Linked DNA regions of Homo sapiens: region 2 is linked to region 1. The links come from fine-mapping of genetic effects on gene expression. Tissue or cell type: unexposed skin. Region 1 holds a variant in brackets; the other region holds the start of a gene. All regions are shown on one strand. Distances are from middle to middle.

What was found. PIP is the estimated chance that this variant, and not a neighbour inherited with it, causes the effect.
Region 2: TUBGCP5 starts here. The variant in region 1 is fine-mapped to the expression of TUBGCP5 in unexposed skin (GTEx, PIP 0.96).

The regions. Positions count from the first base shown.
Region 1 is chr15:22,922,932-22,931,037 of GRCh38, reverse strand. CYFIP1 (cytoplasmic FMR1 interacting protein 1) reads left to right here. Exons shown (of 31, transcript NM_014608.6): 12 at 3,010-3,132; 13 at 4,931-5,056. Among named protein-coding and RNA genes, the nearest start is that of CYFIP1, 53 kb to the left of the region's middle. The variant A/G (reference allele first, on the strand shown) is at 4,699.
Region 2 is chr15:23,035,659-23,043,764 of GRCh38, reverse strand. TUBGCP5 (tubulin gamma complex component 5) reads left to right here and starts at 4,196. Exons shown (of 23, transcript NM_052903.6): 1 at 4,196-4,367; 2 at 6,613-6,666; 3 at 6,760-6,868. The coding sequence starts at 4,222.

The sequences.
Region 1 (8,106 bases):
GGGGCACCTGCTGCTTCTAACACAGACCCCTGGCAAGCGTTTGGGCATGTCAGACAAGGAGGCTGTCCTGGGTGAGTCAGTGAGTGAGTGGCGAGCGAGTGGGAGGCCTAGGACAGTACTGTGCACTGCTGTGGCCTTTATGAACACTGTGTGCTTAGGCTGTGCTAAATTTTTTAAAAGGCTTTTTCTTTCTTTAATAACGAATTAGCCTTAGCTTACTGTAACTTTTTTACTTTATAAACTTTTTACTTTTAAAAAGAGCTTTTTGGCTTTTGTAACAACACTTTGCTTAAAACACAAACACACTCTATACCTGTGCAAAAATATTTTTTCTTTATCTCCTTATTCTGTAAATTATTTTTCTACCAAAAAGTTTTTGTTTTTTTCCTTTTGAGCTTTTTCGTTAAAAATGAAGACCCAAACACACACATTAGCCTAGGCCTACACGGGGTCAGGATCATCAGGACATCACTAGGCAGTAGGAATTTTTCCACTACGTTAAGATTTTATGGGAGCACCATCATGTGTGTGGTCTTGTTGACTGGAGCATCCTTAGGTGGCATCTGACTGTAATTGTTTCTCTGGCATTGTCTAAGGTAACAAATCAGTTTTTTTCGGAGTACAGTTTTTTTTTTTTTTTTTTTTTTTGGGTGAGACGGAGTCTTGCTGTGTCGCCCAGGCTGGAGTGCAGTGGTGCAATCTCGGCTCACTGCAAGCCAAGGTTCACACCATTCTCCTTCCTCAGCCTCCCGAGTAGCTGGGACTACAGGCACCCACCACTACGCCCGGCTAATTTTTGTGTGTGTGTTTTTTTGTGTTTTTTTTTGTGTGTGTTTTTTGTGTGTTTTTTTAGTAGAGACACTGTTCTAGCCAGGATGGTCTCAATCTCCTGACCTGGTGATCCACCCGTCTCGGCCTCCCAAAGTGCTGGGATTACAGGCATGAGCCACCGCACCCGGCCTCTGAGTACAATTTTAAAGTGATTCGACTTTAGGTTTGTTGATTTTCTTTTTTCTGAAAGCTGAACATCCTGGTGAATGACGCCAGCATAATTTGATTTATGTCATTATGTCATAATCTAGTCTTTTTTTTGTTTGTTTTTGAGGTGGAGTCTTGCTCTGTTGCCCAGGCTGGAGTGCAGTGGCGCGATCTCGGCTCACTGCAAGCTCCGCCTCCCAGGTTCACGCCATTCTCCTGCCTCAGCCTTCTGAGTAGCTGGGACTACAGGCGCCCGCCACCACGCCCGGCTAATTTTTTTGTATTTTTAGTAGAGATGGGGTTTCACTGTGTTAGCCAGGATGGTCTTGATCTCCTGACCTCGTGATCCGCCCGTCTCGGCCTCCCAAAGTGCTGGGATTACAGGCGTGAGCCACCGTGCCTGGCCTTTTTTTTTTTTTTTTTTTTTTGAGACAGAGTCTCTCTCTGTTGCCCAGGCTGGAGTGCAATGGTGTGATCTTGGCTCATTGCAACTTCCACCTCCCGGATTCAAGCAATTCTCCTGCCTCAGCCTCCCAAGTAGCTGGGACTACAGGCGCACGCCACCATGCTTAGCTAATTTTTGTATTTTTAGTAGAGACGGGGTTTCACCATGTTGGCCAGGATGATCTCCATCTCTTGACCTTGTGATTCGCCCACCTCAGCCTCCCAGAGTTTTGGGATTACAGGCATGAGCCATTGCACCCGGTCATAATCTAGTCTTAAAAGAGCAATGCCAGCACTACTAATTACAGTGACTAGAAATTGTTTTATGATTTGTTTTGCAGGTGATTTTGCCCTTGAGCTTCTTACTCAGGGTACTTTTTTTTTTTTTTTTGAGATGGAGTTTCGCTCTTGTTGCCCAGGCTGGATGGCGTGTGATGGCGGGATCTTGGCTCACTGCAATCTTCGCCTCCTGGGTTCTAGCAATTCTCCTGCCTCAGCTTCCCGAGTAGCTGAGATTACAGGCATGCAGCACCACGCCCAGCTACTTTTTTATATTTTTGGTAGAGATGGGGTTTCACTATGTTGGCCAGGCTGATCTCGAACTCCTGACCTCAGGCAATCCACCTGCCCCGGCCTCCCAAAGTGCTGGGATTACAGCATGAGCCATCGCACCGGGCCCCTCACTCAGAGGATTTTAAGTCACACCGTGGTGTTTAGAGCTGCTCAGGGTCCTCTCAGTGGTCATGCTGTGAGCTCCATGCAGGTTCCCGCCATTGTTTCATTTTGCTTTTGACTTCTAGGCATTGCATTTCCGATCTCATTTAATTCTGTGTCCTAAATATATAAAATATTTGTGTGGTTCTAATATCACATCTATAAAAAGGTATATTCAAAGAAGCCTGCCTTCTCCACGGTGCCCCTTCCTCCCCATAGGTCACATGTTTAAATTTAGGGGGTGGTTATTTGATAGAAGCAAACCCACGTGACTTGTGTGTTGCCCTTCCCCGGCCTAGTGGAAGTGCGCCAAGCCCACGCGTGTAACAGCCCCGCGCCCAGCCCGCGGTCCCCCAGGCGGTGGCTGTGGCAGCGGCCTGTCCCTTGCTCTGTGCTCTGCAGCACGCCCTTGGCCGCCATTTTCCCGGGAGGAGGGTCCAGCACCCACAGCATTTCTTATTTTCTTTTTATTTATTTATTTATTTATTTATTTATTTATTTATTTATTTATTATTTTTTGAGACGGAGTCTCGCTCTGTCGCCCAGGCTGGAGTGCAGTGGCGCAGTGTCGGCTCACTGCAAGCTCCGCCTCCCGGGCTCACGCCATTCTCCTGCCTCAGCCTCTGAAGTAGCTGGGACTACAGGTGCCCGCCACCATGCCCAGCTAATTTTTTTGTATTTTTCAGTAGAGACGGGGTTTCACCGTTTTAGGATGGTCTGGATCTCCCGACCTTGTGATCCGCCCGCCTTGGCCTCCTGCATTTCTTATTTTCACACGTGTGACTTTGGGGTGGATTCTCATGGTGGATCCCGGGATGGGGGGAGCTGGGTGGGGGCGCTGGTTTCTCACGGGGCCGTGCCCGCCTTGTGCAGGTGGTCACGGGCTCGGGCCGCCAGGAGGCCCAGAAGACGGACGCGGAGTACCGCAAGCTCTTCGACCTGGCGCTGCAGGGCCTGCAGCTGTTGTCGCAGTGGAGCGCGCACGTGATGGAAGTGGTAGGCCCCGTCCCCGACCCCAGCCCCGCTCCAAAGCTGCCTCGGGCACTTTATTCACATTAACTTTTGGTCTTTGGGCTTTTTATCTTTGGCCCTAGAAAGACGAGAATATCTATCAGTAGATATGTTTCCAAGGTGATTTTAAGTACATCTCATTTATGTGTGTAATAAATGAAGGGCCTCCTTTTTAAAAAAAATCTTGATAGAATTAAATTTGTACCATTGTGATTTTCTTTAAGTCGTTCTTTTTTTGAGATAGTCTCACCCTGTCGCTTAGGCTGGAGTGCGGTGGTGCAAACATAAGTCCCTACAGCCTTGACTCCCCACCCCAAGCGATCCTTCTGCCTCAGCCTCCCAAGTTGCTGGGACCACAGGTGTGCACCACGGCTCCCGGCTAATTTTTTTTTTTTTTTTTTTTTTTTGAGACGGAGTTTCGCTCTTGTTGCCCAGGCTGGAGTGCAATGGCGTGATCTCGGCTCACTGCAACCTCTGCCTCCTGGGTTCAAGCGATTCTCCTGCCTCAGCCTCCTGAGTTAGCTGGGATTACAGGCGCCCACCACCACTTCTGGCTAATTTTTTTGTGTTTTTAGTAGAGATGGTATTTCACCATGTTGGCCACACTGGTCTTGAACTCCTGACCTCAGGTGAACTACCCGCCTCAGTCTCCCAAAGTGCTAGGATTACAGGCTTGAGCCACCGCACCTGGCCTAGTTTTTTGTTTTTTGGTTTTTTTTGTACAGACAGTCTCGCCGTGTGGGCCAGGCTGGTCTCAAACTCCTGGCCTCAAGCCATCTGCCTGCCTGGGCCTTCCAAAGTGCTGGGATTACAGGCGTGAGCCACTGTACCTGGCCAAGTCTCATTTTTTCATTTAAATTTTATTTTGCTTTAAATATTTACTTGTATTGATGCATAATAGGGGTACATAGTTTCAGGATACATGTGATAATTTAATACAGTCATACAGTTTGCAAAGATCTAATTGGTGTGCTTGGGATGTCCATCGCCATAAATATTTGTCCTTATGCCAGAAAAATTCGAGTTCTTCCCTATCTATTCTGAAATGTACCATAAATTATTTTAATTAATAGTCACCCTAACTGATCTATCTAACACTGTCTTATTTCTAATATCAGACTGTACATTTGTACCCATTAATGTCGCTTCACGCCCTGCATTTTTAAGATAACATTTTCTCTTTGGAGCTCCAGCCATCAATGTCTTTTGTTGAACATTAGTAAATTATTTCTGGTGCCATATAAAGATTTGGATACCTGTAAGCAATGAAAGATTTTCCCTTTTGTGATTTATTTTGATCACATAAAAATTATCAAATTGGAAGAGTACATGGTCATTTGAAAGGCAAAATCTTTATTTACTTACTTATTATTTTATTTTTTGTAGAGATGAGGCCTCACTATATTGCTCAGGCTGATCTTGAACTCTTGGGCTCAAGTGATCCTCCTGCCTCAACCTCCCAAGTGCTGGGGTCATAGGCATGAGCCACTGTGCCTGGCCCAGAATCCTTTTTAAAATGATGATGAAATGCCAGAGTCTTAGATACTCAGC[A/G]CTCACTATCCAGGCCATTTTGCCGGGTAGATTTTTTAAACGAGAGGTTACAGGGCCAGGGTCTTTTGCCCATCTGTGGAGATGGACGGTGTGTGCGCCCTCATGTGTGACTTTCAGAATGCAGCAAAGGTTTGAAGGCTGGCCTGGCTTTGGCCACCATCGTGTGAGTCAGACCAGAAGCCAGGCGTTTTGCATGCAATATGGAACACCTCTGCTCTTTCGGCCACCACAGTATTCCTGGAAGCTTGTGCACCCCACCGACAAGTACTCCAACAAGGACTGCCCCGACAGCGCTGAAGAGTACGAGCGTGCCACGCGCTACAACTACACCAGCGAGGAGAAGTTTGCCCTAGTGGAGGTGAGGATGCTCGGCCGCTCGCTCTTCCTCATGTCGCTCTAGCTTCACACCATCTTCTCTGTCAAAAGCAAAAACATGAACAAAACTGCCTGTTTACTCATTGCTTCTGTGTGGGCACCCCTTTCCATCTGGCAGAGTAGTCAGAGTAGAACGCATTAGAGAAACAGTGGTTGTCGGTCCTGGGTCTGCACTGAAGCTCCCTGGGTGCGAATCTGGACTCCTGGACCTGCGTCTGGATGGAGAGCAGTGTCGGGTGCGGGGAAGGGAGGTGAAAGAGATGTGGCCCCTGCTGAGAGAGAAGAGCTGTCTTGCTCTCCTGTGAGGCAGGCGCTGCACTCCCCTCGTGAGCCTTTCCATGGGCAGCTCTTCATTCCAGCATCAACTGGTATCTTTTCTTTCATAGCTGTGCTTTTCCTGTGCTGTTTGAGAAATCTTTGCATACTCTCAGGTCGTGAAGGTATTCTGCATTGCTTTCTGGATACTTCACTCTGCTTTCACACTGAGATGCGAAATTCACCTGAAATTCATTTTTGAAACAATTCCGTCCAACCCTCACGCTGCCACCTTTGTAGCTGGTCACGTGACAATGCATGTGTGGCTGTGTTTCTGCTCTGCTCTAACCCAGTGTCAGTTGCTGTCGGTATCCCAGCACCACTCTGTAGCTTTGTAGTCATCTACCGTGTATGAGAAAGCACGTCTTTCTGTCTCCTAGACTTCCTTGGCTATTCTTCCCCACTGTAGTTTCATATTCATTTTAGAATCAGCTTTTCCCATCCCACAGTGAGGATTTTAATCAGGATATGAACAATCCTATGGATCATGACAGGAGAATTGACAGAAGTCTCATACAGTTGGCCCTCAGTGTTCTTGGGTTCCACCTCCATGAACCAACCTTGGGTCAAAAATGTTCAGAAAGAAAAAATAACACTACAACAGTGAAAAGTAATAAAAATGTTAAAAACCACTGTTTTGGCCTCAGCCTCCTGGACTCAAGCAATCCTCCCACCTCAGCCTCCCCATTAGCTGAAACTATAGGTGCATGCCACCACACCTGGCTAATTTTTATATTTTTGGTAGAGATGGGGTGTCACCAAGTTGCCCGGGTTCGTCTCAAACTCCTGAGCTCAAGCAATCCACCCGCCTCAGCCTCCGAAAGTGCTGGGATTGCAGGTGTGAGCCACTGCGCCCAGCCAAAATTTTCTGATTTTTTGACATAAGGTTTTTCATAGTAAATTCTCATCTTATTTTGGTAGAAGCTTTTTTTTCACATAACCATACAGTTCACCCATTTGAAGTGTAAAAGTCAATGCTTTCAGCACATTCACAGAGTTGTACAGTCACAATCAAATTTAGAACAAATATAAATGCCAGCCCATTATCAGCCACCCTTCATTCTTCCCTCCCTCAACCGTATGCAGCCACCACTCTGCTTTCTGACCCTGTAGATTTGCCTGCTCTGGGCATTTCATATGAGTAGATCATACCATATGTGGCCCTTTGTGACTGGCTTTCACAAAGCATAATTTTCACTTAGCATAATTTTCCTTTTATTTTTCTTAAGATGGAGCCTTGCTCTGTCACCCAGGCTAGAGGGCAGTGGCGTGATCTCAGCTTACTGCAACTTCTCCCTCCCGGGTTCAAGCAATTCTTGTGCCTCAGTCTCCAGAGTAGCTGGGATTACAGGCACCCACCACCACGCCCGGCTAATTTTTGTATTTATAGTAGAGACAAGGTTTCACCATGTTGGCCGGGCTGGTCTCAAACTCCTGACCTCAGGTAATCCGCCTGCCTTGGGCTTCCAAAGTGCCAGGATTACAGGCGTGAGCTACCGTGCCAGGCCACTTAGCATAATTTTCAAGATTCACACAGGTATCACTGTTTTGTTCTGTTTATTGCTGAATAATATTGCATTACATGGATATGTTACATTGTATTTATCCATCCATCAGATGATAGACATTTGGGTTATTTCTACCTTTTCACTACTATGAAGTTGCTGAGAACTTCTTTTTCTTGTTTTTTTTTTTTTTTTTTTTTTTGGAGACAAGGTCTCACTCTGTCACCCAACTGGAGTGCAGTGGCAGGATTATGGCTTATTGCAGCCTCAATCTTCTGGGCTCAGACAATCCTCCCTCCCCAGCCTCCCAAGTAGCTAGGACCACAGGCACAAACCACCATGCCTGACTAATTTTTAAATTTTTTGTAGAGATGGGGTCTCACTGTGTTGCCTAGTCTGGTCTTGAACTCCTGAGCTCAAGTGATCCTCCTGCTTTGACTTCCCAAAGCACTGGGATTAGAGGTGAGCCACCATGCCCAGCCTCTATGAGCTTTCATGTGCGGGTTTTTGTGTAGATGCTGGTTTTCATTTCTTTTGATTGTATAGCTAGAAATGCAATTACTGGATCATAACAGCACATTTAGCTTTTGAGGAACTACCAGATAGTGGCAGCACCATTTCTCCTTCTTACCAGCAGTAAGTGAGGGCTCCAGTTTCCCCACATCCACACCAAACTTGTTATTGTATGTCTTTTTGATTCTAGCTATCCTAGTGGGTGTGAGGTGGTATCTCATTTCATTGCGCTTTTGATTTGCGGTTTTCTAACAACTAAGGATGTTAAACGTCTTCTTATGTGCTTGTTGGCCATTTGTGTGCATTATTTGGAGAAATGTCTCTTCAGATCCTTTGCCCATTTTTAATTAGGTTATCTTTTTTATTATTGAGTTGTAACAGTTCCTTATACATTCTAAATATCAGTTCCTTACAGCCATAGGATTTTCAGTATCTTCTCCCATTCTATGATTGTCCTTTTAGTTTCTTAATGGAGTCTTTTGAGACACAAAGTGTTTGAATTTTGATTATGTTTGATTTATCTGTTTTTCTTTCGTTGCTTATGCTTTTGGTGTCATATATAAGAAATCATTGTGTAACCCAGGTCATGATGATTTACTCCTGTGTTTCCTTCTAAAAGTCTTTTTTTTTTTTCTTTTTTGAGACAGAGTCTTGCTCTGTCACCCAGGCTGGAGTGCAGTGGCATGATCTCAGCTCACTG
Region 2 (8,106 bases), 110 kb before region 1:
AGGTGGGGTTATGAAGTTCCCCCCGCCCCCCGGCACCTCCGGCCAGCTGGGGTTATGATGGCCCCACAGCACCTCTGGCCAAGTGGGATTATGACCCCCCCAGCACCTCTGGCCAGGTGGGGTTATAATACCCCCCCACAGCACCTCTGGCCAGGTGAGGTTATGATGTCCCCCCAGCACCTCTGGCCAGGTGTGGTTATGAAGTCCTCCTGGCACCTCTGGCCAGGTGTGATTATGAAGTCCCACTAGCACCTCTGGCCAGGTGGGGTTATGAAATCTCCCCCAGCACCTCTGGCCAGCTGTGGTTATGAAATCCCCCCCAGCACCTCTGGCCTGGTGACATTTATGAAGTCACCCCCAGCACCTCCGGCCAGGTAGGGTTAGGAAGTTCCCCCCGCCCCCCAGCACCTCCGGCCAGGTGGGGTTATGATGTCCCCCCAGCATCTCTGGCCAGGTGGGATTATGATATCCCCCTAGCACCTCTGGCCAGGTGAGGTTATGATGTCCCCCCAGCACCTCTGGCCAGGTTGGGTTATGAAATCCCCCCAGCACCTCTGGCCAGGTGACATTTATGAAGTCACCCCCAGCACCTCTGGCCAGGTGGGGTTATGAAGTTCCCCCCGCCCCCCAGCACCTCTGGCAGGTGGGGTTATGATGTCCCCCCAGCATCTCTGGCCAGGTGGGATTATGATACCCCCCAGCACCTCTGGCCAGGTGAAGTTATGATGTCCCCCCAGCACCTCTGGCCAGGTGGGGTTATGAAGTCCCCCAGGACCTCTGGCCAGGTGGGGTTATGAAGTCCCCCCCAGCACCTCTGGCCAGGTGGGGTTATGAAATCCCCTCCAGCACCTCTGGCCAGGTGACATTTATGAAGTCACCCCTAGCACCTCTGTCCGGGTAGGGTTATGAAATTCCCCCTGCCCCCAGCACCTCCGGCCAGCTGGGGTTATGATGGCCCCACAGCACCTCTGGCCAGGTGGGGTTATGATGTCCCCCCAGCATCTCTGGCCAGGTGGGATTATGATACCCCCCAGCACCTCTGGCCAGGTGAGGTTATGATGTCCCCCAGCACCTCTGGCCAGGTGGGGTTATGAAGTCCTCCCGGCACCTCTGGCCAGGTGTGGTTATGAAGTCCCCCGCAGCACCTCTGGCCAGGTGGGGTTATGAAATCCCCCCCAGCACCTCTGGCCAGGTGACAGTTATGAAGTCACCCCCAGCACCTCTGGCCAGGTGGGGTTATGAAGTTCCCCCCGCCCCCCAGCACCTCCGGCCAAGTGGGGTTATGATGGCCCCAGAGCACCTCTGGCCAGGTGGGATTATGATGTCCCCCAGCACCTCTGGCCAGGTGGGGTTATGATGTCCCCCCTGGCACCTCTGGCCAGGTGGGGTTATGATGTCCCCCAGCACCTCTGGCCAGGTGGGGTTATGAAGTCCCACCGGCACCTCTGGCCAAGTGTGGTTATGACGTCCCCCCCAGCACCTCTGGCCAGGTGGGGATATAATACCCACCCCCAGCACCTCTGGCCAGGTGAGGTTATGATGTCCCCCCGGCACCTCTGGCCAGGTGTGGTTATGATGTCCCCCCGGTACCTCTGGCCAGGTGTGGTTATGAAGTCCCCCCGGCACCTCTGGCCAGGTGGGGTTATGAAGTCCCACCGGCACCTCTGGCCAGGTGTGGTTATGATGCCCCCCCGGCACCTCTGGCCAGGTGTGGTTATGAAGTCCTCCCGGCACCTCTGGCCAGGTGGGGTTATGAAGTCCCCCCGGCACCTCTGGCCAGGTGGGGTTATGAAATCCCCCCCAGCACCTCTCGCCAGGTGACATTTTGAAGTCACCCCCAGCACCTCTGGCCAGGTGGGGTTAAGAAGTTCCCCCCGCCGCCCAGCACCTCTGGCCAGGTGGGGTTATGATGGCCCACCAGGACCTCCTGCCAGCTGGGGTTATGATGGCCCCACAGCACCTCTGTCGAGGTAGGATTATGATACCCCCCAGCACCTCTGGCCAGGTGGGGTTATAATACCCCCCCACAGCACCTCTGGCCAGGTGAGGTTATGATGTCCCCCCAGCACCTCTGGCCAGGTGTGGTTATGAAGTCCTCCTGGCACCTCTGGCCAGGTGTGGTTATGAAGTCCCCCCAGCACCTCTGGCCAGGTGGGGTTATGAAATCTCCCCCAGCACCTATGGCCAGCTGTGGTTATGAAATCCCCCCCAGCACCTCTGGCCAGGTGACATTTATGAAGTCACCACCAGCACCTCTGGCCAGGTGGGGTTATGAAGTTCCCCCCGCCCCCCAGCACCTCCGGCCAGGTGGGGTTATGATGTCCCCCCAGCATCTCTGGCCAGGTGGGATTATGATATCCCCCTAGCACCTCTGGCCAGGTGAGGTTAAGATGTCCCCCCAGCACCTCTGGCCAGGTTGGGTTATGAAATCCCCCCAGCACCTCTGGCCAGGTGACATTTATGAAGTCACCCCCAGCACCTCTGGCCGGGTGGGGTTATGAAGTTCCCCCCGCTCCCCAGCACCTCCGGCCAGCTGGGGTTATGATGGCCCCACAGCACCTCTGGCCAAGTGGGGTTATGATGTCCCCCCAGCATCTCTGGCCAGGTGGGATTATGATACCCCCCAGCACCTCTGGCCAGGTGAGGTTATGATGTCCCCCCAGCACCTCTGGCCAGGTGGGGTTATGAAATCCCCCCCAGCACCTCTGGCCAGGTGACATTTATGAAGTCACCCCCAGCACCTCTGGCCAGGTGGGGTTAAGAAGTTCCCCCCGCCCCCCAGCACCTCCGGCCAGCTGGGGTTATGATGGCCCCACAACACCTCTGGCCAGGTGGGGTTATGATGTCCCCCCAGCATCTCTGGCCAGGTCAGATTATGATACCCCCCAGCACCTCTGGCCAGGTGAGGTTATGATGTCCCCCCAGCACCCCTGGTCAGGTGGGGTTATGAAATCCCCCCCAGCACCTCTGGCCAGGTGACATTTATGAAGTCACCCCCAGCACCTCTGGCCAGGTGGGGTTACGAAGTTCCCCCCGCCCCCCAGCACCTCCGGCCAGGTGGGGTTATGATGGCCCCACAGCACCTCTGGCCAGGTGGGGTTATGATGGCCCCCCAGCATCTCTGGCCAGGTGGGATTATGATACCCCCTAGCACCTCTGGCCAGGTGAGGTTATGATGTCCCCCCAGCACCTCTGGCCAGGTGGGGTTATGAAGTTCCCCCCGCCCCCCGGCACCTCCGGCCAGCTGGGGTTATGATGTCCCCCCAGAATCTCTGGCCAGGTGGGATTATGATATCCCCCTAGCACCTCTGGCCAGGTGAGGTTAAGATGTCCCCCCAGCACCTCTGGCCAGGTTGGGTTATGATGGCCCCACAGCACCTCTGGCCAGGTGGGATTATGATACCCCCTAGCACCTCTGAGCAGGTGAGGTTATGATGTCCCCCCAGCACCTCTGTCCAGGTGTGGTTATGAAGTCCTCCCGGCACCTCTGGCTAGGTGTGGTTATGAAGTCCCCCCAGCACCTCTGGCTAGGTGGGGTTATGAAATCTCCCCCACCACCTCTGGCCAGGTGACATTTATGAAGTTCCCCCCCTCAGCACCTCTGGCCAGGTGGGGTCATGAAGTCCCCCAAGCCGCCCCTGAGGAACAGGCGAGGCAAGGGCCAGCAGGCACTACTAGCGGGTCGGGACAGCTGCTTCGCTGATGCTGGTTGTGTAGCATGGATGTGTGTAGCGTGACTGTGTTGTGTGGATGGGGCACGGAAATCCGCAGAGACCATCACTGGAGGGAGAAGCTGCAGGGCCGGGAGGGTTCAGCAGGTAAGCAGTTCAGGGTTCCTGGAAAGGCGGGTCCCAATGCATTTGCTGACCGGGCACCTAACGGGCTGCTCTCAAAATCACTGACTGTCACCGAGGCCGGCCAGAGACCCTTATGTATCTGATTCACGATGACACCAGCTAACTCTGAGTACAGTAGAAAACGTACCGTCGGGCAACCAGAAAATGCGCACTCCAGTCCCCACCACGGGACAGCGCCAGGCAGTACCCTCCACAGCCGGAGCTCGAACTGTCGCGAGAATAGCGGTCGGCTTGGAAGTCGCCCGGCGCGGGAGCGCGAACTCTCGCGAGAATGCCGCCAGCTCCGGAGGCGACTGCGGCAGGAGCCCGAGCTCTCGCGCGACAGGCACCAATTCGTTAGACGCGCGCTGCAGGAGCGCGGAACATGGCGCGGCACGGGCCACCGTGGAGTCGGTTGGACGCGCAGCAGGAGCGCGACGTGCGGGAGCTCGTCCGGGGTGTCGCCGGCCTCCAGGACGAGGCAGACCCCAACTTCCAGCTCGCCCTAAACTTCGCCTGGTCCAACTTCAGGTGTGGGGCACGGCGCGCGGGCGGGTTCCCGGCCACAGCCCGGAGCCCGCGCGTGGGTCCCGCACAGCCCGGGGTCGGGGCGCGCTGGGGCAGGGCATGGGGCGGAGGCGGGCGCGGCCTCAGGGAGCCTTCGCAGGCCCTGCCACCGCCTGCTCCCCGCCGGCCAGCGCTCTCGGCGCGGTGCCCTGCGCACCACAGGGCGTGTTACCCGGGACGCGTCCTGATCGTCACGGGGAAAGCGTGAACTGGGTTTCTTGCCGGCCGGCGCGCGCGCCTGCAACCCCAGCGCTCTGGGAGGCCCAGGCGGGACTCCAGGCCAGCTTGGGCAACGTAGCAACTCCATGTTTATAATTTTTTTTTTTTTTAAATTAAAGAGATTGTATTCTCACTGACTCCTGCTCCCTGGTCAGCCCAGTGTAAGATCTCTCACCCTGCTCTCCTTTTTCCAAAACGCGTGTCATGACACTGATTTAACCTGTCATTACTGTCTCCTCCACTTCCACTCCAGCTAGAATGCTGCATCTCTGCACAGCTCCTGGCACGTAGCACGCTGAGTCACCTAATACAATTTCTAATGCAGTTTCTCTTGTAACTAATTTTTAAAGACTTACAGAATTTAGATATTTACGTAAAGTGAGATCTCCTATTTTTCTTTATGGGAGATGTAAATTAATACTTTTAGAGTCATTACCCATAATGAAATTATTACTAAAAAAATGTTAATGTTAATATTCTACCTGTTTAATTTCAGTAAAAATCTTCTTGAATAATGAACAGTTTTTCAAAATCCGTAATCTTAGTTACCTTAATGATCATAGCCATAAAGTGTCTAGTTGGCTTATAATAGGAATACGGGGCTTTCAGATTCTTTTAAACCATGCCAAGTTTCTGAAGTAATAAACTGAATTCTTAAGTGTAACTTATAAAAATAAACAATGTGTGAAATAGGTTATACAATACAGAAACTTAAATGCTGAAATCCAAGTTATTTTTCTACTAATATTTCTAAATGACAGTAGGCAGATTGTCATCATTTTAGAGCTGGGAGAGACGTTGGAGGTTACTATTTTCATTCACAGATTTCAGGAACTAAATTATAATAGGTAAAGTGGTGTTCCATTCACCCATTTACTGGCCTAGAATCATGTGTTTTTCAGTAGTGTAATTTTATTTAAGTACAGATTGCTCGCTTTGATACTAAAAAATGGAAAACATTTTTTGCATAGGCTATGCTATGTACATATACATTAGTTGCATAGGCTGTGCTGTAATTTTATGATGCTTTAAACCATCAGAAAAATGAATAGTTCATGTTTACATTCTTGAAAATTGTGGACTGGGCGCGGTGGCTCACGCCTGTAATCCCAGCACTTTAGGAGGCCGAGGTGGGTGGATCACGAGGTCAGGAGATCGAGACTATCCTGGCTAACACGGTGAAACCCGGTCTCTACTAAAAGTACAAAAAATTAGCCGGGCGTGGTGGCAGGCGCCTGTAGTCCCAGCTACTTGGGAGGCTGAGGCAGGAGAATGGCGCGAACCCAGGAGGCGGAGCTTGCACTGAGCAAGCTCACTTTTCTCTAACTGAAAAGTAGCATCTCCTTCTATTATGAATGAAGGCAGCAAACCATAGCAGTATTAGCCTACCTATGACTTTATCACCAGTAGAAATCGCATACTGTTTTCACATCAGAGTTGTAGATATTTGTAAATGTTGTTTACTGTTACTTTAATGGTAGTTAATTGGACCTACTGCTAAATCTTGTTATTTAATACTTTCATAAATAACATTTCTTGCCATATCTTAAACTTCTTTAAATATTTGACAACTGTATCTCAGTATAATGGGATTCCTTTGTATTTATTTTTTGGCTTTAAAAATGTTATTCAGAGAAGGGGTCCTTAGGCTTCACCGGGCCTCACTATGGCATAAAAAGGTTGGGACCACCTGATGTAGAATGTGTTCAGCTGGACTTAGGTACAGGGGCTTATGGGAAGACAGAGGAGCCAGAGGACAAGGTTGGGAGGGTCAGGAAGAACCTGTGTGCTGGAGAAAGGATGCTTGCACAGTCTCGGACACGGTGATTATTTGCCTGCCTGATGGTGGAGGTAACGGAGGACAAGGTACACTCCATTCTGGAAATGTGTAGCTGAGTACAGAGCATATGGGGGATATGGAGGGCCATGAGATGAGTTCACTTACCTGTGTGACAGAGTTGGCATAAGAATTGCATTTTGTCTTTAATAGATTTCATCGTTTCTTGGATGTCAACAGCCACAAAATAGAAAAAACAATCGAAGGGTAAGTCAGTGTGTATATATACGCATCCAGAAATATATGTATTTTCTTATAGATCTTTTTAAGATAGCTTTATAATCTTTTCTTATATTTTAGAATTTATGAAAAATTTGTCATTCATTCTGATCTAAGCAAAGCTGCTAGTTGGAAGAGATTAACGGAGGAATTTCTAAATGCACCACTTCCCAGTATAAAGGAAATAAAGGTATGCCTTCAATTATGAGATCTCCACTGTGTATTTTACTGTTTCCTATCTGATTATCGTCAATTTGTTTCAGTTACTGTTTAAACATTCTATTTTAGTATTATCTACTGGCTAACGGGATCTCTTGGAAATTTACTTAAATATTGCCATCAAACCAGATATGCCTCAGTTTGTGATGAAAGAAAGAGCTTGTTTTTAATCATTTTTTCACCTCAGTCCTACTAAGGAAAGAGAGATCAGAGATTGATACAAATAGTAGCATTGTTTGGGTATCTCAAAACTTTCAAATGGTTTCTCAGCACTTGGCAGTGACTGTCTGTAGATGCTTACTAGATGCCTGGTATACTTTCATATTGTTTGGGGGATTCCCCAAGACCACCTTTTGGCATAATGATTTGCTCAAAGGATTCACAGAACTTAAAAAAAAAAAGCTGTTATCCTCACTGTTAATAGTTTATTACAGTGAAAGGATACAGATTAAAATCACCAAAGGGAAAAGGTGCTTAGAGCAAAGTCTAGGAGAAGCTAGGCACGCATGTCCAAATGTTCCTTCCTAGTGGAGTCACCTGGGGATGCAGTTAATTCTCTCAGTAACAGTATATGACAACATGTGCAAAGTATTACCCTCCACTCCCCCCAGGGCCACTCGGCTGAGCCTTGGTGACCAGCATTTTTATTGGGGGTGGGTCACATAAGCAAGCAGAGCCCACATGGCTGACCTTAGCTGCTGAGTCTGTAGCCCCCTAGAGGTCAAACCAAGGATGGCAAGCGTATGGAAACAGCTGTGGGTTCCCTGAACACGGTGGGACCACATTCCCTAGCTCTGCTGTGACACATCTTGTGCCTACATAGTTCTTTCCCTTTCTCCTGCCTGAGGAAGCTCACGTTTTAATATTAAACTCAGGCACTGTCTCCACACATGCTATGTATTTCAATTCTTTATAGTTCCTTTCTTGTCTCCCCCTTTAAAAGGCACATTTTACAGGCATAGGGCTCTGTGTCTGATTTGTTCCCGGACACCTAGAGCACAGTGGACAGTGCATGTTTGTTGAGGGAATCAGTAAGGCTGTGCAGTCTTGTCTGCTTCACTATCCCCTCTGTGTCCACAGCCCCCACCCACTTACACAAGGTGGGATTGGTTATCCTTTTCTCTTGCTGTGTGGCATCTTGGATGTGTTTGTTATGGCAGAGGTCCCCAACCCCCACATGGTGGACGAGTACCAATATGTGCCTGCTAG